3 separate regions of the Homo sapiens genome follow, and regions 1 and 3 are each linked to region 2. The links come from fine-mapping of genetic effects on gene expression. A gene starts in region 2. Each other region holds a variant in brackets. All regions are shown on one strand. Distances are between the middles of the regions. Region 1 overlaps SHROOM2 (shroom family member 2). Region 2 holds the start of SHROOM2 (shroom family member 2). Region 3 overlaps SHROOM2 (shroom family member 2).

The links.
Region 1: its variant is fine-mapped to the expression of SHROOM2 in sun-exposed skin (GTEx, PIP above 0.99).
Region 3: its variant is fine-mapped to the expression of SHROOM2 in left ventricle (GTEx, PIP 0.97). The same link has a PIP of 0.9 or more in visceral fat.

What each region holds. Positions count from the first base shown.
Region 1 is chrX:9,908,695-9,917,224 of GRCh38, forward strand. All of the region lies in intron 5 of SHROOM2 (shroom family member 2), which reads left to right. Among named protein-coding and RNA genes, the nearest start is that of CLDN34, 54 kb to the right of the region's middle. The variant C/T (reference allele first, on the strand shown) is at 3,957.
Region 2 is chrX:9,782,034-9,790,563 of GRCh38, forward strand. SHROOM2 (shroom family member 2) reads left to right here and starts at 4,396. Exons shown (of 10, transcript NM_001649.4): 1 at 4,396-4,677. The coding sequence starts at 4,513.
Region 3 is chrX:9,812,940-9,821,469 of GRCh38, forward strand. All of the region lies in intron 1 of SHROOM2 (shroom family member 2), which reads left to right. It also overlaps the pseudogene EIF5P1. Among named protein-coding and RNA genes, the nearest start is that of SHROOM2, 31 kb to the left of the region's middle. The variant C/A (reference allele first, on the strand shown) is at 3,398.

The DNA.
Region 1 (8,530 bases), 130 kb after region 2:
GCCTATAATCCCAGCACTTTGGGAGGCTGAGAGGATTGCTTGAGCCCAGGAGTTCAATACCAGCCTGGGCAACATAGTGAGACCCCATCTCTACAAAAAAAATTTAGCTGGGCATGGTGGTGCACCTGTAGTCCCAGTTATTTGGGAGGCTGGATTGGGAGGATCGCTTGAGCCTGGGAGGTCAAGGCTGCAGTGAGCTATGATGGTGCCACTGCACTTCAGCCTGGGTGACAGTGAGACCCTCTCTCAAAAATAAATAAATAAATAAATAAATAAATAAAAACAAAAATAAAAAAACAGGATTCCTAGAGCACAGCCAGCATGCAGAACTTGTTTTCTAAGGCTTTTCTCCAATAAAAGGAACCAGGGCTCCTCAGAGGAATGACTGAGTCTAGGGTTGGGGCAGGGACTGTACAAGATGAGCCTGGAGTATCTTATAGTGCCAGAAAATAAGCGCTCAAATACACCCATATGTAAACCCAGCGGTGACAACAGTGTGGGTATGTCATAGGGACACAGGAACCAACAATGACCAAAGGCAGAACAAGTTAAGCAGCAAAATTAAGTAGTAGTGGATTATAATCCAATATATAAAATGAATCCACAGCCCAGACTGATACGCAGGATGGTTGAATAAATTAACAAATGAAGAATAGAGAAATCTGCTGTGCAGAAAATTGCAAATACTTTATGTAGCTACTGTGCCCTTAAGGAGGTGGAGCATAGCTCCCCCGCTCCCCGCTCAGTGTGGGCTGCCAACAGTAAGCTCCCTCCAAAGAGTACAGTGTGGCAAAGGGGACCGAGGAGAGGAACATCACAGTGGAGAAACTGGTGTATACCAACTTCACCAGGCGATCAGGGCCAACGTTGACAGGTAAGTCACATTGACAGCATGCCCCTTGATATCATAGGATAACAGTGGCACTTCACTTCCATGGTCTCTCTCCCAGAAGTCCCAGGCTAATCATAAAAACACATCAGACAGTTCCCAATTGAGAGACATGCTGCAAAATGCCGGAACAGACCTCTTCAAAACTATTAAGGTCATCAAAAACAAGGAAAGCCTGAGAAACTATCATAGCCTATTCAGGCTGCTATAATAAAACACCTAAGATTATATGATTTATAAACAGCAGAAATGTATTTGTCACAGTTCTGGAGGCTGGGAAGTCTAAGATCGAGGCACTGGCAGATTCGGTGTCTGGTGAAGGTGCTTTCTGGCTCACAAATGGCTGTCTCTCTGCTGCGTCCTCACATGATGGAAGGGGAGAGGGAGCTCTCAGGGGTCCCTTTTATGAGGGCACTAATCCCATTCGCAAGAGCTCCATCCTTATGACCTCATCACCTCCCAGAGGCCCCACCTCCTAACACCATCACCTGGGGGTTAGGTTTCAACATAGGAATTTGGGGGTGGGGGGCACAAGTGTTCAGTCTAAAGCTATAGCACCCTCACAGCAAGAGGAGTCTGAAGAAGCAGGCCTGAGTATGATGCAGTACCTGGATGAGGTTCAAAGACAGAAGGAGAACATTGATTAAACAGAAAATTTGAATAAAGTGTGACCTTTAGTTAATATTAATGTACCAATATTGATTCATTAACTATGACAAACACACCCCATAGTAAGTCAGATATTAATAATAGGGGGAAGTGGGTAGAGGGCATATGGGAGCTCTCGCCTGGCTGTTGCAATTTTTTAGTAAATCTAAACCCATTCTAAAATGAGATGCTGGCCAGGCGCAATGGGTCATGCTTGTAATCCAAGCACTTTGGGAGGTTGAGGCAGGAGGATTGCTTGAAGCCAGGAGTTTGAGACCAGCCTGGGCAACATAGCAAGACCCTGGCCAGGTGCAGTGGCTCACGCCTGTAATCCCAGCACTTTGGGAGGCTGAGGCGGGCGTATCACTTGAGGTCAGGAGTTCGAGACCAGCCTGACCAACATGGTGAAACCCCGTCTCTAATAAAAATACAAAAATTAGCTGGGCATGGTGGCGTGCACCTGTAATCTCAGCTACTCGGGAGGCTGAGGCAGGTGAATTGCTTGAACCCAGGAGGCGGAGGTTGCAGTGAGCTGAGATGGTGCCACTGCGCTTTTGCCTGGGTGACAGAGTGAGACTCCATCTCAAAAAAAAAAAAGTATAATGAAATATTTATTTTTTACAAATTTTTATGTAGAGACCAGGTCTTGCCATGTTGCCCAGGCTGGTCTCCAACTCCTGGGCTCAAGCAGTCCTCCCGCCTCGGCCTCCCAAAAGTGCTGGGGTTATAGGCGTGAACCACCACACCCAGCCCTATAATAAAATATTTAATCAGCCATCAGCTGATTGCTGTTCCGTGTGTGGCCTGGCAGTATGTGTTGAGCATTTGAGAAAAGGTGATGGCCCGGGGTGAATGGCACCCTCTCTTAGAGACAGTAACATGTACTTGGTAAAGTAATACGTGAAGATGAAAAGTACTGGAAAGAACACGGGCTTCGGAGTTGAAGACACAGGCTGGAATCCTCATTCTGCCTCTCAGTGTAAGTGTGTCAGGTCCCCCAAGCTTGCTGACCTCACGGCCCTGGATCATGGGGATATGCAGAGCAACCTTGCTCGCAGACTTATTTACATGCTTAAGGGATATAACATTAATGAATCAGCACAGTGCCTAAGGTTAAGTGTCGATATGGGGGAAAAAAATCTAAAATAGCAGTGATACAGTATAGGCTGCAAAGCAGCATATGTTATTTGGAGAAATGAGCAAGAGTTGGAAGTAATTGCTATGAATGTAGAAGAGGGTGACAGGAACAGGTTGGAAAGAGAAACTCCGTCCTGGTGGCTAAGCCCAGGATGTGGGAGGGTGGGATAGGGCTGTGAGGCGCAGTGGCTGGCGACGCTGCTTCCTGGAGGGGCTGTGGTGCTGAGGTCTGGGGCTGCGTTAGGAGGGAGGTGGGGCTCAGGGACTTTAAATAGAGATCATTGTGAAATGGTTAATTGGGAAAGTCAGGTCCAGCCTGCCTTTGTCTTCCCTGAGTGCCTTGCACACACTCAAAGTTCCGGAAACGCTTGTTAGTTGCTTGATGGGTTACATTCCTAATGAGTGTGTAATCAACCCAAGAATATATGGACATAGAATAGGCTGTTGAATGTTTTCTTTTTCCTCCTTATGGTTGTGGAGTTGAACTGTGTGTCACATATGTTATAGGATTATCTAGCATCACTTAATAGAGAAAGCTGTAACATCAGTGCAGTGGGCTTTCTATATTTCCCCGTTAAAATATAAGAAGTGCTGGGCACAGTGGCTCACACCTATAATCCCAGCACTTTGGGAGGCTGAGGCAGGAAGATCACTTGAGCCCAGGAGTTGGAGGCTACAGTGAGCCATGATCATACCACTGCACTCCAGCCTGGGAGACAGAGCAAGATCCTTTCTCCAAACACACACACACACACACACACACACACACACACACACACACACATAAAGGAAGACTGCCCCCCAAGCCTTTTGGGGTTTTAAATTACAAGACACACACACACACACACACACACACACACACACACACACACACACACACACATAAAGGAAGACTGCCCCCCAAGCCTTTTGGGGTTTTAAATTACAAGACTTTTGGGGTTTAAGCACTGAAGTGTTGGGAATGTTCCCCACTGAGGCAAGGAGTTGCTGATGAAGTGATGGGAAATGCAAGCGGAGCCTTGAGCCGTGGAGGTGAAGGTTGACGGAGCCTGCGTGAGCTTGCCCATCAACAAGACAGCAGGCACAGACAGGCCAGCTGTTGTGAGCTTGGCTTTAGGACTCCATTCAGTAGGCAGGAGGAGAGCTGCAGCAGAGGCGGGCTGTGGGTCCCTGAAGCACATCGCTGCCTTCACAGCTGGGCGAACTCCCATCCAGCACGGTAAGCAGAGCCGGGTAAGGGACCTCTGCGTTTGCTCTCGGGGCACTTCATCCCAGATGGGAC[C/T]GGTTTCAGGACGCCTGCGCCGTTTGTTAGGGGTTTGTAGTTCCCAGTGGCTCTTTTGTTCTGCTATCTTGAAGGGCAGGTTGCTTGTCAGCTCACAATGCTGTGGGTAAGGTCTGGTGAGGTCGGCGAATGTGTTCTCATTGTTTATTCTTCTGCCTGAAGATGAGAAATAATGCAAATCAGGGTGCAGATTCCGGCTCGAGCTCCACAGGCGTGCACGTATGTGTAAGGGCATGCTCGCCGGTGCTGCATGTCCTCGTGGATGCATGCAATTTTTACAGCTTTGGGATTCACGGTTAGCTGAAAGCACATTGGAACTGGAAGGCGGTGCTCTTAACACCGTGTTCTAGGCTGGAAGCCGTAGAGCCATCATCTGCTCTGATGGGACTGCAGCCCTTGGTATGTGGGACCCTTGCTCCATGTGAGTTCTGCAGATGGGTTCCCCGAGGGAGCTGGCTGGAGGACGCCAGCATCGCATGAAGACCTGCCTGCCTCGTTTGCCTTTTGTTTTTCAGTAGCAGTAAGAAACAGGCATTCTCACTACACAGGCATTGAATGCGGACATTGAGAAAAAATGGTGAGTCAGCTACATCCTCAAGAAAAAAAAGCGGCGAAATCAGGTGTGCATGTTTAGTCATGAGAAATGTTCCCTGAGTGCGTTTGCACATAGCCTGCTGATTGCAGTGAGATAATTTAAATAGAGAAAATGGAATCACCATGGTTCTTAGCATTTTCCAGTTCTTTTATTTTGCTCTTTGGTGTGATTGTGACAGTTTAAGGGTTTTACTATACATGTGCTTTTTCCCCCATTTTATGTTGTGATAAAAGAAAGAGATGATTAGTTTTGGCTATATTTCTAAATGGTTGGAATGCCTTTGCTTTACTAAAGGAGGCTTTTGTGTGTGCAGAGGGTCGATGGCATTTTCACAGGGAAATTGATGCATAAATATGTTTGCACACACAGGCTGTCTCTTTGGTCTGCATTTACTGACTCACAAGAGTAGGTGTCATTTTGAAATGCATGTTTTTAGCGGTTGTGCTAGTTGAAAGGTAAAAAGGCAAAGGAGTTTGAAGAAAGGTTTTTGGAAATCTACCTGGTAGCACTTACGAGTAAACAGCCTACTGCCTCGTAGATGGTCTTAAGATTTATAAGATGAATGGAAAATAATATTTTAATGTATCATATAAAAAAACTGAAGATTTGGTACCAAGTTGATGAATGGTTGGCATATTTCTTTTCATTACGGAATAGAACCTTTGAGGTCATACTCTACAAGTATTTCTTATTATTTTATTGCGGAAAAGCATTGCATGGGTGGTAGAGGCACATTTCTTTCTTTTGTCACACATAGTGGCAAAAACATTTTATACTTTGTCCCTTTCTGTTTCTCCGCCTCCACCTGCGCCCACCCCCCTGCCCCCCCGCCCCTCCCGCCCCGATCACCACCAACCCAAACCAACACCATACCTCTTAAGGAAAAAAATTGCAGGGGAATTCTCATCTACAGAGGCATGAACAACACACACAGAGTTTTTTACAGAGTGCTAGGAATAACCATACACGTTGGTGTCAAGCATATAGGCTGCGGAAGGCTCTATTGCCCAGCCAGAGGGACAAATGACCCTGGTGAATGCACGCTGACTGCTGCTTGTTTTGCATGGGCTGGCTGCTCTTCCAGAGTCCGCCTTTGGATTTTGGAGGTTGAGGAAGGAAGGGAATATTTTATGTGGCCTTTGGAATACATTTACTTTACACTACCTTTAATTTTTTACCTCTCATATGCATTAAATTTTTAAGAAGACCAGGGTAGGGGAGCAGTGGGAAGAAGCTGATGTCTTGTATCCACCCATCTTTCCCCTGTCCTCGGGCACTGATTTCCAGCTGGCTTTTCCTAGAGCAAGTAAGACAGTCGGGTCATTTCTGGAAGGCTTGTAGACATCCTTGGATGTCTGAAGAGGTCCTAGAGTTATTTACTTATTTACCTTTAAAACATATTTGCCGACACCTTATTTAAAATTCCTGAAAGTTCACAGTGCCTCTTCATATGTATACCTTGGGTCCTACTATGCGGTTACCATCTTGATTTTATAATAAAGCAAACTGGGGGCGGGGTGACTAGATTCTCACAACCAGTTAGTGAAGAGCCCTCGTGGGGCAGCATGGCTGATTTTCAGTCTGGTGGGCTCCTGCGGACTAATGGGTCGAGGTCCTCCAGGTAAGGCTGAATGTAGAACTGGCCCAAGAATTCCTAGTTATTCTCTTAGTAACTTTCACATCCCTTATCCAGTTTGCTGCCAGTGCAGTGAGAAGGAATTTCAGTTTGGACTTCTGGGAGTGAAGTACAGAAACCCGTTAATCAGGCAGAGACAGCATGTGTGCTCCTCAGCCTGCGTTGGTGTGGCTTGCGAAGCCACCTAAGCATTCTGACCCTCCATTTCTTCATCCATAAAACAAGGAACACAGATTAAATTATTTCTTATTTAAAAATTATTTATTTTTTATGTTTACCATTACCTTGATCTTGAAGTTTAAATTATTTCCCAGGTCCCTTCCAGCTGTAGTCATTTTTGGTTCTTAGGGAGAGAAGCCAGGGACTCAAATTTCCCTTCAGTCATATTTCCAGCTCTGTGGGGTGATTTGTGGCTGCACTGTTTTGCTCATTTGCCGTCATTATTTCCAGGAACAAAAGCATATGAATATATATGAGACACACGCACAGGGGTAATAGCTTCGATATCCATTTACAAATAAAATCAGCTCTGTCAGCAAACTCAATTTTCTGTCAACAGGGCTTTGTTGATGGGAATGCCCTTGACAGCTAAGCCTACTTCGGTCTTCTTGTGGTAATGCCTCATAAAGCCACTCACTGCCAAGGTGCTCTTGGGTATAACTTGCATGAAATTTGTTATAAAATTATTCCGTTAAAAAAATCTAGCTGGCGGACCCTTAAATGTACTTGGAGGCCATTAAGGGTGGAAAAGCTAGAAATTCTAGGAAAATTTTCAACATTTATACACGTGTGTGTGTATACACATATACATGCCCATACACATATGTGTACTACACACATTTTCTATAGTAATTATGCATATAAAGTTAATGTCATGTACAACAAATATCTGAAGTCTATTGGATAAACAATCCATTTCCGATTCTGGTTCAGCTGAGTTAGAAGATAGGCAGGCAATGATCTGAGATGGAAGGTTTCCACAGTTTGGGGTCACGTGCAATTGTGATAGAAGGAAGATTGAGATTTTCTCTTAATTTATGAAGCTGATATGCTATTCTAACTAGTTTTTAATATATCTTACCACAGGGCCACCCAAAATTCAAAATTACTCCTGATTTTGTAAGCTTCACATATGTTTTTGAGAATGAGGTTTTATACTAATCTGGGATTACAGCTTTCTAGGCTGTGATATACAGTTTTTATTAACATTTCCTATTTTAAAAATCAATTTTGCTAATTAAAACCTTTTTATTAAGAATATATAGAAGTTCTGGGAAGCAGAGTGAGGATATTAACAAATCACCCTCAATCCTATCACCCAGAGTCTCCGCTGTGGAACATGGAAGTATATCTGCTTTGAAGTCCTTGCAAATATGTTTTTACACATGCAATTATATTACACATACTGTATGTAAGCTGCCTTTTTCTGTAACTTGTATGTGTATGGTGCATGACATTCTAAAATCTAACAACCCTGTAGCCATACTGTGGACATTTAGGGCTGCTGTTGGTGTTTGACGTTGTAAATAATACTGCAGCAGATATCTGTAGTGAAATACTTGTGCTCTTCCATGTTGATTTCCTTCGGATAAAATTCTGGGCATGGAGTTGCTAGGCAGGCGCTAGAAAATATCACCACGTTGCCCTCCAAAAAGTGTATGCTTACTATTTACACTCTAGGGGCACCGATCGCCCAGGACAGTCCTACTTCTCCCAAAACTTTGTCAATATTAGACATTTTTAAAATTCTGTGGTTTGATAGGCAAAAAAGTTATTTCATTTTTAACTTGCATTTCTTCAGGGACTAGCAAAGTCAGACTTTTTTGGTGCACTGACTAGCCATTTGTGTTTTTTCTTTTGTACATTACTCTTCAGCGCGTGTTCATTTTCCTACTGAAGATGAGCCCTTTCTTGATTATTGTCATTTAGGTTGCAGATAACATCCCTACCGTGTGCTGTGTGCCTTCCAGATGTTAGTGGGTGGTTACAGTTCAACTTTTTTGACATACAAGTGTGTTGAATTTTAGCGTTGTCGCCCTTGCACCTGGAGCCTCTGTGTGGCCAGTTCTGCCTTTTGGTGGCTACTGGCTTCTGTTAGTTGTACATTGCCATTACTGGTCTCTTGTTACCATGTGTGCCGCAGAAGGTGTAGCCACCAGGAGCTCTGTCAGCATGAATTCCCTAGGAGGTGTAGACATCCATCTCGGAAGGCTGGTAGAAAAATTGTCTCTGTGGAAAAATTAAGAAGTGCCCAGCTTTCCGACAACCCTAACTCATCGTAGTTCCCATCTTTTGCTCTGGTTGACAGGAAACTCGTGGTCCTATTGGAAGCACAACCATAGG
Region 2 (8,530 bases):
TGTTGGCCAGGCTGGTCGAGCTCCTGGGCTCAAGCGATCCTCCCACCTGGGCCTCCCAAAGTGCTGGGGTTAGCAGTATGAGTCAGTGTGCCCTTCCCACAGATTTCCTTCAACTGCATCACTCGTGCTCTCTGATCTTGACTGATCCTGTGCCAGTCTGAATTAATAGGAACACAGCGGGTTTAGTAGGAAGTGGCTAATATTGCCATTTTTAAAATGCCACACTAAAAGGTTTTCTGGAAGGCTTGACCCTACGGAGCCACTATTTGAAATGTGAAAGTAAAATTTTGGAACTCCATCTTCTACCACATTTTGTAATGAGTATAAATCTCTTTTCTTTTTAGAACAAAAAGCTAAAATAATTTGAGCTGTATTTCATAAAGAAGATTAGCTATTAATGAAGTCTCTGAACGTTGGTTAATTTGCCTTACATTAATTAATTCATTCACTGTTGACGAAGTGAAAGCAGAACCATCCTCAGTTTCATCTATCTCTTCTCTCATAGGAAATAAACCTCAGATTAGCAAAAGTGGCCGGGGACTGGGTGCGGTGGCTCACGCCTGATCCCAGCACTTTGGGAGGCCGAGGCGGGTGGATCACCTGAAGTCAAGAGTTTGAGACCAGCCTGACCAACATGGTGAAATCCCATCTCTACTAAAAATACAAAAATTAGCTGGACAAGGTGGCGCATGCCTGTAATCCCAGCTACTTGGGAGGCTGAGGCAGGAGAATCACTTGAACCTGGGAGGCAGAGATTGCAGTGAGCCAAGATCTCACCATTGCACTTCAGCCTGGGCGACAAGAGCAAAACTCCGTCTCCAAAAAAAAAAAAGAAAAAAAGAAAAAGAAACAGTGGCCAGGTACAATGGCTCATGCCTGTAATCCCAGCACTTTGGGAGGCTGAGGTGGGTGGATCACTTGAGCCCAGGAGTTTGAGACCAGCCTGGACAACTTAGTGAGATCCTGTTTCTACAAAAAATAAAAAATTAGGCAGGCATGGTGGCATATGCCTATAGTCCCAGCTACTTAGGAGGCTGAGGTGGGAGGATCACCTAAGCCTGGGGCAGTCAAGCTTCAGTGAGCCATAATCGTGCCACTGCACTCCAGCCTGGGTGACACAGTGAGACTCTGTCTCAAAAAAAAAAGAGAAAAAAAAAGAAAAGAAAAGAAAAGAAAAAGAAAAAGTGAAACAAACACCTAAGGCTACTGAATCCCCGGGGCAGGCGCTCATAGGGTCACACTCCTTGCAGGTCCAGAAGAGAGTATATGCTCACCCTATTCTCTGAGCAATGAACAACCACAGTGAGAAATTACACAGAACAAACATGCCCCTCAGCTTTCCAAAAGGACAAAAGACTAACATGGACAAATGGATTCTGCTTCTGAAAATTCCACCTGAGTTGTGAGTTCTCAGAAAAGAAAGCCATCTACTAGGAGTCCATACACTGGTTCAACGTCATACTAAAACTCTCCCAATGGGGGTGCAAGACTGATCAACTGGGGTGATGCCTTTCAGCCACAAGATATATTTTCACAAGATTATTGACAGTGTCTTGTGATGACAAAACAAACACAATATAGAAGTGCTGTCATCGCACCTAGACCATAGTAACCCCAAGAATATCACAAAAGGATTTATGACTGAGCAGGCACCTGTCTCATAGCAGGCCACACAAATCTTGGTTCAGTCCCTTACAGCATAACATCATTATAGACAGCAGCCTTATAAATATTCCAACCATCCTGAGATGGATGCTTAATGTGAAGATTAAAAAAACAAAACACCCCAGCTAAACACTGTTTAGTAAGGATGGATGTAAATTTCTAGCTAAGTTTAAGAACAAGGGAGTCCTTTTAAAAAGTATAAACCTTTCAAGTGGCAGATGGGTAATCTGACAATGATTACGTACGGTGAACATAAAATGTTAAAGATGACTTTGGGGCTATATAGAATAATGCTGGATTTATGGAGACAATGAAATCACTGTCTCTGCTTTATAATGAGTCTAGTGGTCTGAATTTTAGCCCCAGGTAAGAGCTTAGACTGAAGTCTATACCAGCTTGGGGTGGGGAGGTAGGGAGTGGGCTGTTTTGGGAGACGGACATGTCTGCAAACTCTAATAAGCACACTGGGTATATTTATACAGCTCTTTATCTTTTGGTTTATCATATCCATCCATTTCTTAAACTTTGTGAGATAACTGGATTTACATGTAGTTGTAATGTGTCCAGAGTTGGTTCCTTCCGGTGGGTTCTTGGTCTTGCTGACTTCAAGAATGAAGCTGCAGACCTTTGCTGTGAGTGTTACAGCTCTTAAAGGTGGCACAGACTCAAAGAGTGCGCAGCAGCAAGATTTACTGTGAAGAGCGAAAGAACAAAGCTTCCACAGCATGGAAGGGGACTGGACCGGGTTGCCACTGCTAGCTGCAGTGGCCAGCTTTTATTCCCTTATTTGACCCCACCCACATCCCGCTGATTGGTCCATTTACAGAGTGCTAATTGGTCCATTTTACAAACCTCTAGCTAGCCACAGAGCGCTGATTGGTGCATTTTACAATCCTCTTGTAAGACAGAAAAATTCTCGGAGTCCCCACCCAACTGGCTTCGCCTCTTGGTAAGGAATAATACAGGGAAGTCCTGTGCACCCTTCACTCTTCACCTGCCTGTTCCAATGGCAACACGTTACAAAACTACAGCACAATGTCACAACCTGGAATATGGACATTGATACAATCCACCAAGCCTTTTCAGATTTCCCGTTTCACGTGCATTTAGTTCTGTGCAATTTAGCTTAATCAACTTGGCAGCTCCTGTGACCATCACCACAGTGAAGATACACTCGACTTGATTCTGAGAGGCACATTCCTTAAGCCTTCGTTTAATCTTTGAAAAAGAAAAAATCGCCTCATTCTTCTAACTAAAGGCATTCAGAGACTGTAGTTAGAAGTTAATTATGGGGCAGTCACCACGTGCCCAGCGCCATGACAGGTGCCCAGTGGAGCTGCGACTCTGAATTTAATCGGCTGCATGAGACACCTCCACAGAATGCACCCCTCTCACTTGACCTCTGAAGAAACAGACCAGAGCTGAGATTTCTTGTCCCAGCTTGACAGTGGCAGAACCCAGACCCGGGGACCCTTGACTCTCTGTCCAGTGCTCTCCCGGCCTGTCCTGGATGCGTACTCCAGCATCGTCACCTCTGAAAAGGGCCTGGATGGAGCTGCTTAGAGAAAAGAGGTGTTCACCAGCCTTCAGCTACGTATAGAAACAGCAACGAAAACAGCTTTTTTGCAAAGCATGTAAATACCTATCCATGCAGGTACTTTAGACCAGAGTTTCATGGAAACTGAAACCGAGCAGGAAGAGGTGGCACACATGTTGTCCGCAAACTTTCACCAATCCCAGACCTCCACCTCCCCTTTTCGGGGATGTAAACCTGGGAAACTTGAAGACCTTGTGGTCCAATCCTAGGCGAGTGGGGACAGCATCTAGACGCAACGGCTTTCTGCGCGGTGGCTGTGGGAGGCCTCTGCGGGAAGGTGGGAAGGCCCTCGTGGAAACGGGGCACGGTCCTTCTGCGCCCGCCTTCCAAGCCCCTCCAGAGGCCGGACCCGCGCCCGGCTCAGGCTGCTGGGGGGCGCCCTTCCCGGCTCTCTAAGTCCAGAGTGTGAGTGCGCGCAGGGCCGCGCGGGACGGGCGGTCCCTCTGCCCCGGGGCAGCGGCCACAGCGCGGGCACCAGGGCCTCCCGCGGCGCTTCCGCTCTCACCTGCGCGGCAGCCCGCGGTGCGCGAGAACAAAGTGTGGGCGCCGGCGGGCCGCGCGCCCCGAGACGGAGGAGGCCGGAGACTCCCGCCACGCCACCCCGCGCCCATCTCACCTGCCGCCTCACCTGCCCGGTCCTGGCCTCCAACCGGCGGGCGGGGGCGCCCAGAGCTTCGAAGCACTGCAGAGCTCTGGCGCGGGAGGAAAGGCCCGACCTGGCGCCGGGGCCTCCGCCCCCGTCCTCGCCCGCGCTGGCTCCGCCAGCCCCGGGGCGCGCGCTCCTCGACCCCGACCCCGAACCCGCTGAACGGCGCGCGCGCCTGAGCGCCCCTCCCGGCCCGCTCCCCTCCACCGGGCGAGAGAACCGGGGCGCGCCCCTCTCCAGCTCTCCCCGGTACGAGCGGCCGCGTGGGCCCCTGAGCGCGCACCTGACCCCGTCCCTCACCCTTCGGGCCGCGGGCTGGACCTCTGGACGCGCTCCCCGTGACCGGCCCCGCGGTACGAGCTCCCGAACGCGCCCGCCCCGCCCCCCGTCGGCCCCGCCCCCTCCCCGCCAGCCCCGGCCCCGGCCCCGGCCCCGGCCCCGCCCCCTCCCCGCCAGCCCTCCGGGCTCCCTCCGCCGCCGGGCCGGCACTTTCTTTCCAAGTTACGGCGCAAGTTCTGCGGCGCTCGGAGCCTCCCTTGCGATCCCACGGCCGGGACTGCCCGGAGTGCATGGGCGCGGGCCAGGGACGCTGAGCGGTCGCGCCATGGAGGGCGCCGAGCCCCGCGCGCGGCCCGAGCGCCTGGCCGAGGCCGAGACGCGGGCGGCGGACGGCGGGCGCCTGGTGGAGGTGCAGCTGAGCGGCGGCGCCCCGTGGGGCTTCACCCTGAAGGGCGGCCGCGAGCACGGCGAGCCGCTGGTCATCACCAAGGTAAGGCGGCCGCGGGGCGCGGGCGCTGACAGCCGGGAGCTGGCCGCCCTGCGGGGCGCGTCGAGGTAGGGGCGCGGGAGGGGCGGTAGGCTCGCGCCCCCGGGTCTGGCGCGCGCGTCTGCTGGGGTCACCTGCCGGGCCTGGGCGCCGGGACCGGCGTGGGCGTGTGATCCTGGCGGTTCCCCGCGCCTCGCAGAGTTTAAATGGCTCCTGCCCGGAGTCCCTTTCCCCTCCCCCTCCCTCCTCCGGGCAGGGGCCTGGCCGGGTCCTCTGGCGCTCCCGGGCCCGCCAGTGGCGGCCTGCACCTGCGGGGCTGCCTGGAGGCCAGCGAAGGAACGTGTCCCCGAGCCGTCCCCACCTATGTTTGCCTCTCTGGGGTCCCTGGTTCGGCACCCCTTGGACCCGTGCCTGTGATCACTACGAAATCCAGAGTAGCAGCTGTCGCCAGCGCAACTTCTCGATTCCCTTCAGCCCATCAATGTTTACTGACTTTCGGCTTCCAGTCCCAGATCCACTGCGCACTGGATACCTGCGCAAACTTAGAGAAACCTGAAAGCCTGCTTCCTAAGAGCAGGACCCGAGTTCTAATAATAATAAAGAAATTCCAGATGTATCTCATCAGGAATGTTGTGTGTGTGTGTGTGGTTTGCTTTAGAACATTGAATTTTATTGTCTCAAAACAAAATCCATCTGGAAACTTACCAGTTGAACCTGTATGAACTTGTAAAAGCAAACACATAAACAACAGTCCAGTCACCCTGTGTTCTAGTTAAAAGTGTGTAGTGGTCATTTTCTCTGGGAAGGGTTGAGTCGGACCTTTCGTGTGGACGAAGTTCCTTTTAAAATGTAAAGATTCTTGGCGACTAGAAGCGTTTGAAGATAATTTACTGGTTTTCTCGGCTTTCCTGCCTCTCCACAGCAGGAAGAAATTAAGTGATTCCTAACCCGCCGCACTGGTAATCAGTTTGGGAAGTGGGATGGCTTTGTTGTTCAAATAGCAAATGAGACACCAGCGTCTTCCATTCTATATTTTCTGTCGCTTTTATGATTACAAAACTTTGTGGAGGGATTTGGAGAAGCCTTGTTTAGCTTTGCACTAAATTTTTGTTGAACTCAGGAAAGAGGTTGCCATTGTTATAAATTTGACCAATGTGTAATCTTTTATCACACTGGCTTCTTTGGAAACATGGTGGACAGTCATAAAGTGTGTATACTCTGCCCAGCCAGAACACTCCTCTTTTTTTTTTCTTTTATTTCTTTTCTTTTCTTTCTTTCTTTCTTCTTTTTTTTTTTTGAGACAGGGTCTTGTTCTGTCAGCCTCCTGAGTAGCTGGGACCACAGATGTGCGCCACCATGCCTGGTTAATTTTTTAAAATTTTTTGTAGAAACGGGGAGTTTCACCATTTTGCCCAGGCTGGTCTCGAACTCCTCTGCCTCCCAAAGTCCTGGCATTACAGGCATGAGCCACTGCGCTTGGCTCAGAATGTGGATTAATCCAAGCTTTGAATCTTCCTCTCCCAAAAGCTACTGAAAAGTCACTGGGGCTCATTAAAAAATAGCTCTTCTAATCGTTTTTTTTTTTCCACTTGTAATTAAATAGTTACATATTAGAGCCCTGGAATACTGTACAACTCACTTGCTATTTAGCAGACTCTGATTTGGGGATAGCTTGCATTAAGGTAAGAGCGCACCTTCTCTTTATGATAATGAGGGTATCATTTGAAAGCCTCATGGGAGTGCGTGTAGTAGAACTGGGAGGGGTGTCAAGAACAAGGCTGGTTCGGTCCTGGTCTTCAGATGGAATTTTATCAGCCCATTTTATAGATGAAACAGCTGTGGCCCAGGCAGGGCAAATGGTGTATCCTGAGGTCACAAACTGTTGAGTCCTGGGAAAGGCCCTAAGAATCAGACTCTGGCCCCAGTGTTCAAGCCTGCTGCTCCCCTTCAGTCAGTGCCATCTGCTTGGGTCTGGGATCTCCTGCAATGCCATATTGAATACCTTCGTCACATCGGTTAGGTGAGGGTTTGCCAGCCTTGGCATTGGGGACTTTGTGAGCTGAATCTCTTTGCTGTGGGGCTGCCCTGTGCTTTGGAGGATGCTCAGCAGCCTCCCCAGCCTCTACCTGCTTGATGCTACTGTCACCTCTCTCCAGGTGTGATGACAAAAATGTCTCCAGACATTGCCAAATGTCCTCTGGGGGCAAAATTAGCCTGGTTTTGAATCTCTTTTGTTAGATTAACCATATATCACCTTTGCTCTTAAAGGATTCTTGCTCTTAAAACTTCTGTTTCTTTTTGAATAGACTGGCCTTTAGGGTGGTGTGTTTAGAGGCCTCTGGCATTGCCAGTGTTTGCATGGAGAGCTGTTTTCCTCCCACGCGTTGGCCCTGAGAATAGGCTTTATTTACATAGTCAAACTCAAACAAATACTTGCTTCATCTGCATTTTTTGTAGCTGGAGAAAGGAAATTGAAGCAGGAACTCCCAAGTGCTGTGTTTTATGGGCATCCACAGTGGCTGTTCAGAATCAGGACTGACTACTCTCTGGGTCTAGTTTGAAGCTAAAGGGATACCAACTTCAGAGGAGTAGCATTCTTGGAATTTGGGGTGCATGCATGAAGCCCAGCAGAACCTCCGCTGACAGATGGCGACAGGATTCATCACTCCTCAGTACGTTTCTGCTGATTTCTGCCTTGAAATTTTGCTACAGTTGGTGGAAAAAATGCACTCAAACCCATATTTCCATGCTGTTGTTAGAGAGGGGGCAGGAATAACATCCATGCTGTAGGAATCTATGTAACGGAAGTAGAGATGGTGGATATATGTGATCCTGGTGGGTTTTTTGCATGTTTCTGTTCCCATCCATTCAACCAGTGGAAGTCTTCAGTGGGGGGAGGGGAGGGGACTGATTTCTAAAATGTCACTAGAGTGGCTTGAATTCCACAAAGCTGTTTGGGGGATTCATGAGGAAGCGTTAAATACACCAGCTGGGTGTCAGCAGCCCCCTGTGGCCTCAGGAATGTTTGTTAAGGGAGGGAAGGAATGAAGCCCCAGCCTCTCCTGTTCACTATTTCTTAGAGTCCGCTCCCTCCCCCAAAAAGAATGCCAGAAGCCTTAGCCCGAAGCTCCAAAGAAGACAGTAACTTGGGCCTGGCCTAGCCCCAAGGGCAGCTCCTTTGGGAACCCATTGATTTTCGGGTTGCCATTGGGCACCAGAGCTGTTGTGTGCGACAAGACTGCTGTGGTCTGGGACGCTTGGAGGTCCCCCCCACCTGACTCACCCACCCCAGGGCTTCAGACTCTGAGAACATTTCTCTGGATTGGAGACAGAGCTTTGAAATGTCCTTTCCAGTGTGAATGCCAAAGACGGAATCAGGGCATATTTTGGGGGGCGTGCAGCCAGGTGGCAAGTGTCTTATGTAAAGTGTTAGCTGAGTCCTTGATTGCAGAGGGCACAGGGCTGAGACTGGTGGTTGGTGATGGGCAGGAGTGGAGGCCCCGCGCCTCTGATGTACCTTACTTATTGGTTTGGAAAGGGGGCTCTGCATTATGGGCCATGCCAAGTCACCTCGTGACCCGAGGACCGGGGAGATCAGAGTGACCACCCTGGTCGGGATCAGTTCTTGTCTCATATGCCATTATATTGGCTCCCAAGAGCCAACCAAGCTCTTTGTGAAATATCAGTAAAGGTTTTGAAAAAGAGGGACCTGATGAATTCAGCAGTGGGTCAGGAGCGGGTGACTCTCAACTTTGTGGCTGCTGGTGGATTTTTGTGCCCAGATGCAGTGTGCGGTCAACATCTGCACGAGGGAGTGCTGCTGCTTCTCCAGGTGTCTGAGAACCAGTGGGTGAGG
Region 3 (8,530 bases), 31 kb after region 2:
CTGCAACTGAAATCACCACTTGGTGAAGCTTACGATAATCCAGTGTCATTCTCCAAGATCCATCTGTCTTCTGCACGGGCTAAATGGGAGAGTTGAACGGGGATGTGGTGGGAATCACCACCCGTGTGTCTTTCAAGTCCTTGATGGTGACATTAATTTCTGCAATCCTTCTGGGGATGTGACATTGTTTTTGATTTACTCTTTTTCTAGGTAGAGGCAGCTCTAATGGCTTCCACTGGGCCTTTCCCACCATAGTAGCCCTCGCCCTACCAGTCAGGGAGCCAATGTGGGGGTTCTGCCAGCTGCTGAGTATGTCTATGCCAATTATGCATTCTGGCACTGGGGAAATGACCACAGGATGAGTCTGGGGACCCACTGTAAGTCGGACCTGAGCTAAAACTCCATTAATTACCATACCTCCATAAGCCCCTACTTCAACTGGAGGACCACAGTGACGTTTTGGCTCCCTTGGAATCAACGTCAGCTCAGAGCCAGTGTCCAGTAGTCCCCAAAATGTCTGATCATTTCCCTTTCCCCAATGCACAGTTACCCTGGCTAAAGTCCAGAGGTCTCATTGGGGAAGGATGGGAGAAAGAGTCACCACATAAATTGTTCGTAATGTAGTGGGGTCCTTCCTCAAGGGGACCTGGCCTCCTCTTCATTCAAGGGATTCTGGGTCTGTAAACTGGCTCAAGTCTGGAAATTGATTGAGGGGCTGTGATTCTCTGTTTTTATAATTCAAATTAGTCTTTTGTCCATTCGACCCAGAAGTTTTCTGCTTATATAAATTCAGTAGGAAGGCAGTAGGCTTCCTATCGATTTCCCTTCTAGGAACACCATGATTAATTAGCCAGTGCCAGAGCTGTACACGAGTCAGACTATTCTGATTGCCGCTTTGCCTCTGCTGTCCATTATGGTAGCTACGCACACCTTGCCTTTGACGGTTGAGTGTCATCACTTGGCTCCTGCCACCTCGGGATCCAATTATTCCCATCATATTTAAATTTTGTAGTTGCGTGACTGCAGTTCCCACCATTAGATCTGACATACAGGGAAGAACAATTACAGGGCTCTTCAAAGATGCAGGTGCTGCCCTCACGAATCTATTTTGCAAGGCATTGGTTAAGGGTATGTCTTCTGGACCCTCCCAGCTGGGATGAGTAGGTCTAAAGTGGCTAATCCACTCCACCATCCCAATCTCCCTAAGCCTTTGGATCCCTTCCTCTACATTAAACCAAGGGAGATCAGGCATTTCCAGCTCACTCCCAGTGGGCCATCTTTTAATCCATAGTTCAGCTAACCAAGCAAATAAACTCTTAGAACCTTTTTTTAACTCCCCAGCTGCAACATTAAAAGCAGAGTCCCTACTTAGTGGGCCCAAATCAATAAATTCAGCCTGATCCAACTCTGTGTTCTTTCCACCATTATCCCATACCCTTAATATCTATTCCCATGCCTGTTCTCCAAGATTTCTGTTTATATCAATTATAGAACTCAAATGGTTCTTTTCGAGTGTAGCGCACCTCCTCATGGGTCACATTCTCAACCTCACCTCTAGGGGCCTGCTGGGACTTTAGTGATAGGTCTAGAAGCAAACAGGGGTGTCGGGGGTGGCTCCTGAGAAGAATCAACATATTTTGCCTGGCAATTGCCTCAGGGGAGGCCATCACTGTTGCCTCAGGCAGCACAGGGTTTATCTCCTCAGACAAAGGTGGAAAGGCTGATGGCAGCCATGGGTCAGGGAAGGGATGTTGCCATTACAGGGGATGGGGAAGCTGTTCCTTCTGGCAAAAAAGGTTCATCGGAGTTTACAAACTCAGTGTCCCCAGCTTCATCAGGGTTCTCCCTCACCGTCCCCATTCCAAGTTGCAGGGTCCTATTCTTTTCGAATCAATGCCCTCACTTTAACAGTAGACACCTGGCGAGGCTGTGCATGCATCTTTCATTGAAGGTCAGCCCCTCGCATGATAAGAGCATGTGTCTGTTTTTCCACAATTTCAGCTCTTTCTCTACAGGAGATAAGACTCTCACTCAGGGCAATCTTAGCAGATTTGAGGCTCAGTATCTGCTTTTGAAGCCGGGAGACAGAATCCCCAAGTTCATCATTTTCTTTCATCACTTTGCCCACTGAACTTAGGAGCAACCAACCAACTTCATTATATTCCTTGGTTTTCCACATATGGTCAAAGGTATTATGTATAGAGTCACTAAACTCCTTGCCTCTCATGAGCAGTGAATCAGGAGTGTCAAATGCATTTATTTTGCATAACTCTCTAAATGGTTTATGCCAAGGACTATCAGTGTTCTCCATACTATGAGAAGTGGAGTCCTTAGCATTTTGGAGTCTAATCATATTAAGCAGGCAACTCCAGAAACCTCAACCCACAAAAGAACTTCATCCTTAATATTCTGTTCCTCTAGAACCACTCTTTGTACCAAAATCTGTATTAGGGTTCTCTAGAGTGACAGAACTAATAGGATAGATATACATATTATGTGTGTGTGTGTGTGTGTGTGTGTGTGTGTGTGTGTGTGTGTGTGTATATAATATCTCCTATATATCTCATATGTATATATCATATATAGAGATCCATTATATATATATATCCTATATCTATCCTATATCTATATCCTATATCTATATCTATATCTATATCTATATCTATAAAGGGGAGTTTATTAAGTATTACATCCCACAATCACAAGGTCCCACAGTAGGCCATCTGCAAGCTGAGGAGCAAGGAGAGCTGGTCCGAGTCCCAAAACTGAAGAACTTGGAGTCTGATGTTCGAGGGCAGAAGCATCCAGCATGGGAGAAAGATGTAGGCTGGGAGGCTAGACCAGTCTCTCCTTTTCACGTCTTTCTGTCTGCTTAATATTTGCTGACAGCTGATTAGATTGTGCCCACCAGATTAAGGGTGGATCTGCCTTCCCCAGCCCACTGACTCAAATGTAATCTCTTTTGGCAACACCCTCACAGACACACCCAGGATCAGTAGTTTGTATCCTTCGATCCAGTCAAGTTGACACTCAGTATTAACCATCACAGTTACTATGTACGGATTTGCCTATTCTGGACATTTCATGTCAGTGGGATCGTAGAATATGTGGTCATTTGTGTCTGGTTTATCTCAGTATAATGTTTGGAGATTCATCCATGTTGTAGTGTGTATCAGTCATTCCTTTTCATGTCTGAATGCTATTGTCCTATGGGAATGGACTGCGTTTTGTTCATATCCTTTGATGGACATGTGGGTGGTTCTCCTTTGTGATTCTTGTAAATAATGCTGCTGTGTGGACAAGTTTTCAATTCTCCTGAGTATTTTCCTTGTGTTTCAAGCTTTTTAACCTCAGTGCCCCAGGCATAGCGCTTGTGATTTCCTGAGCACATGGGTGG[C/A]GCATCCCTGATGAATCAAAAGAATAGGATTGGTCATTTTGGCTTCACGGCTGTTGAAGCAAAATTAAAACTCACAATTTCAAAGGTCATAGGATTTTTGTCCTGACCCCGGTGGGTGTGGGCCCCTGCAGGGCTCCGACAGAGGTGGTCAGCATGTCTGCTGAGCCTTCAGGAAGACATGCCTGGTCACCGGCATCCTTGTGGTCCTTGTGGTGGCAGTTTGTGGTTAGCTCAGCCTTACCCCCTGCTGCTGCTGCTGCTGCTGCTGCTGCTGCTACTTTCTGAGCAGGAGCATGGGAGTCTTTCACCCTCCCTGCGAAGTGGACATGGGGTTGATTCTGGGGTTCAGACAGCGAGCGGGGTCCCTGTAGCCCAAGGGTGATAGTGCTCGGGACGGTGTCCCCCCTTAGACATGAGCTGCTCTCTTGTCATTTCCCACTCCTTCACTTCCCAGCAACAACACAGCTTCAGACCAAAATCAAAACCTTCACCTCTTCATCATTTCTGGTTATATTTCAGAAACCCGTGCTATAGGGGGATCCCTCAACAAACTTAAATTTTCCAGATTTAGGGGACATTGGCAGTATCTTCATCATAACATTGTAGGGTTTGTAAGGTTTTCTGTTGAATATTTTTCTTTTTCTTTTTTTTAAGAGACGTTGTCCTGCTCTGTTGCCCAAGCTGGAGTGCAGTGGTGTGACCTTGCCTCACTGCAGCCTTCAATTCCTGGGCTCAAGTGATCCTCCTACCTCAGCCTCCTGAGTAGGTGGGACTACAGGCACCCGTCACCCATGCCCAGCTAATTTCTGTATTTTTTGTAGAGACAGGATTTCACGATGTTGGCCAGGCTGGTCTCAAACCCCTGACCTCAAGTGATCCACCCACCTCGGCCTCCCAAAGTGCTGAGATTATAGGTGTGAGCCACCACACCCAACCTCCCTCTAACTTTTTTTTTTTTTTTCAGTATGTCTAAACATTTTGGAATTGTAATTTAAATCATAAGGGCAAAAGCTGAAAATTAATGCTTAGGTTTACTAGTAAGTGCACCCTTCCCTGTTTCCCCCAAATAAAATCAGTTTATTTTTTAATTGTACCCCAAAGCAAGTTCTCTCAGTACGAAGCAACTACTGCGTACACACAAAATGGTTGTTAATGTAATAACTTCCCTGGCTCACCCAACGTGCAGTGCACACGACTTCAAAGACTACAATTTAGGGCAAGTATACATGAAATGAGAAAACAACTCTCTAAGTTTCAAAACCTGCTGTTAAATTATTTCTAGGACACTCAGGTCATATTTACTTCTCAGTAGGATGTTGCACTGTCATTTGGTTATCAGTCTACCTCGCAGTGTACATTACCAGATGCCAATTGGAGGGACTAGAGATAAAACTTATGTAGTACTATTTCTTAATGGGCTGAATAAGGTAATTACAAATAAGTTTGCCTTACATCCTGTTGAAGACCTCTTTACAGCCTCAGTACCTAACAATATCTAGCAGCCTCCAAGAATGCTCATCAGGTGAAACGATGATGTAACATTTGAAAATGGAGCCAGATACTTCAGCTTAAGTCATTCAGAGCCAAATATCTGAAGAATGGCCAAAATCAAATCTTTATTTTTATAACTGTATAAATGTGATCCAAATGTGTCCACCACCAGTTTTTCAAAAAGAAACATGCTATAAATAAGCAAACTACATCTGCTCACTGATGTGTGTATGGACTCCCTGGATGTCTCATTGAGCTTAATTACAGACCACTCACAGTAATGGATTTTTAGTGTATAGTGTAGCTTGATGTTAAGCCATTTTAGCTTTTGCGCATACATGTTGTGCTGGCTGGTAACGGAGAAGAATTTGCAGCATTACAATGTTAAGCTAGGTTGTATCCATCCCATTAAATGGCATCAATATCAATGTCATCATCCTTGTTGTTGGACTTTACAGTTTCAACTTTAGGTACACTGGCAGTCTTCTAATACACCACCTCAATGTTCTCATCTTCATCTTCTTCACCACCAGAAGATTCTTCCTCTGCCTCCATTTTATAAATGGTTCTACTTTGACACGAATCTCTTTGGCAGGTTCTTTTGAGACATGTTTCTTAAAGGCCTTTTTCCGACCAGCTGATGACGACCTCTTCTTCTAAAAAATCTACATCATACATCTCCTTCAAGATATTTGGAATCTTAGAGATAAGCTGAGCTTGGTGCATTGCTACCCCACACGTAAAGCCATGAAGAAGGTACCATTGAGCTTTTTTGTTGTTGTGACAAAATCATAAGAAATGGTGCCTGTATTTCTTATGTGTTCTCTAATCTCCTCTTTAAAAAGAACTTCAGTCAGAACAAGAGGGCCCATGGCTTTAACATCCAGTCCTTCTGCTTCAGTAACAATTTCTTTGTCACATAAATCAATGATACCCTCTTCTTTCTTTTTCTTCACAAAATCAAACAGGATGTTGGCCCGCTCCTCAACTGTTTTTTCCAAATCATCATGGAGTATCAGAACTTTTGCATGATCACTGATTTCATCCATTCTGCACCTTTGAGCTTCCTCAGTTGTATCTTCCCCCCAGTCATCCTCCTCTTCTTCCACTGTATGTGGAGGAGGGCTAATTTCTTTGGTGGTGGTGTCTCACTGCTGGATACGGAGCCATTTTCCTTGTCTTTGCCCTTTATATTTTTCTTTTCCTTTTCTTTCTTTCCTGTACCACTGTCACTATTCTCAGGTGGGTTTTTGAGAATGAATGTGCAGAGTTTATGATGTGTGTCAAGCATGCCTCGATAGCCACAGGCTTTATAAGAATTACCTATTGTTTGCTGCTTTGGCTTGACATGCATATCTGTTTCAGGATTCTCACATTCAGGACAGAGAACAAATTTTTTAATGAGTCCATCCAATATGTCTTGCAGCTTATTGGCCTCCTGAGATCCATTCACAATGTAACAATGTATCCCACCAAAATACTTGGTGGGATACCTTGGAGGCCAATTAAGCGCCTTTGCAGTGTCAGTCATGTTGACTATAACTGTCTTGATTCCATTTCCTTTGCCCTCAACCTTGGCAATCAGACAGGGCATCTTGTAATAGAACTGGTCTGATATGCTGGGGTTGACGTTGACAGACATTTTGGCTTATTGGTGGCTTTATCAATAAGATGAAGAGATCTTTGATTGCAGCTTTTTTATATCTTCTGTCTGGAGAAGAAGGGATGACATAAACAACTGCAAAAGTTCTCGGTCTCTAATGTGAAAACATTTTCACCACTGAGGCTGTAAGCGTCTTGCTTGTATGCTATGTTTCCCCAATACAGGTACTAATGGCTGCGCAAAAGCTCTTCTGGTGAAGGCCTCCCTGCTCTCCCACGCTTGAAAAGCGCTGTCCTTCATGCTTCCCTGTCACCTTGCTCCTAGCAGGCATCACGTCGAGTCCACCCTGCCAGTTTATCTTTTTTTTTTTTTTTTTTTCTTGAGAGGGAGTCTCGCTCTGTTGCCCAGGCTGGATTGCAGTGGCGTGATCTTGGCTCACTGCAACTTCCGCCACCTGGGTTCAAGCGATTCTCCTGCCTCAGCCTCCTGAGTAGCTGGGACTACAGGCACCTGCCACCACACCCAGCTAATTTTTTTAATTTTTATTTTTAGTAGAGATGGGGTTTCACTATGTTGTCCAGGCTGGTCTTGAACTCCTGACCTCAAGTGATCTGCCTGCCTAGGCCTCCCAAAGTGTTGGGATTACAGGCATGAGCCACCGTGCCTGGCTCCCTCCACCTTTAAAATTTTTTTTTTTTTTCAGATTATGTTTTTCGAGCCTCAAGATTTATTTTATTGCAGTATTTTTTTTTTTTTTGTAAATATGAAGAGTTGTCCAGTAGAGTCTCATCATATGTCGACTGAAGCTGGCACCATCCTATGGCCCACAGAGGCTTCTGTAACTGGGTCTTCAACATGTGGCCCTCCCTCCATCCTTTCCCACCCTCTTTGCTCCAGCCACAGCCAGCTTCCAGCTTCTAGAAGCAGCCTGCATTCCTCCCCCACCCTTTTTTAAATAGAGTCTTGCTCTGTCACCCAGGCTGGAGTGCAGTGGTACAATCATAGCTCACTGCAGTCTTGAATTCCCGGGCTTAAGCAATCCTCCCACCTCAGCCCTCCCAAGTAGCTGGGACTACAGGTGCACCACCGTGCCCTGCTAATTAAAAAGGTTTTTTTTAGAGATGAGTTCTCACCATGTTGCCCAGGCTGGTCTCAAACTCCTGGGCTCAAGTGATCCTCCTGCCTTGGTCTCCCAAATTGCTAGGATTACTGGTGTGTGCCACTGTACCTGGCCTTCCTTTTTCTTTTGAAAAAATCCTTAGGTTTTAATAAAATTCCACGTCCTCCATTCTCTGAAATCTGTATGAAGTACCAGAAGTCTCAATTTGACAATAGACATGGTCAGGATATTTCTAATGTTTGGATGATCCTCTGCAAACTAGAGGCCAGCAGACTTCTGTAAAGGGCCAGAGAGTAAATATTTTTGGCTCTGTGGGCCAAATTACTCCTCTGTGCTGTATAGCATGAACGCTGCTGTAGACAGTATGTAAATGAAAGGATTGTGTGCCAATAAATCTTTATTTACAAAAGCAGGCATTGAGCAGTAATTGGCATCCTGGCTGGGGCTTGCTGTCCTTGGTAAGCAGTGGTTTTCAAAGTATGGTTCCCAGACCAGCAGCATCAGTATCCCCTGGGAACTTGGTAGGGATGAAAATTCTTGGACCCCACTCTAGACCTACCGAACCCCAAACCAGAAGTTAGGAATCATCTGGGTGATGCTAATGCTGGCTCCACACAGCAGAGCAGTTCTCTGTACAACTGCTCTACAGAGATGTGGCCTGTCTGCCATTTGTATTCTAATTAGCATGTGCAAAACCTCGGAATCACGGTTGCTGGGACCCAGGGACCTGAATTTTAACAACTGGCTCAGATGGTTTTATACACACTGAAATCGGAACCAGTTTCTAAAGCAGCACTTCTCTGAACCAGTAGAGGACGTGGGGGAGGCGTCAGGGAAGTTTTTCAAACTACAGCCTGAGCTTGCTTGGGGTACTTTGCAAGAAGGAGGGGGTAAATGTGGAAAATGGGAGCAGTTGTGG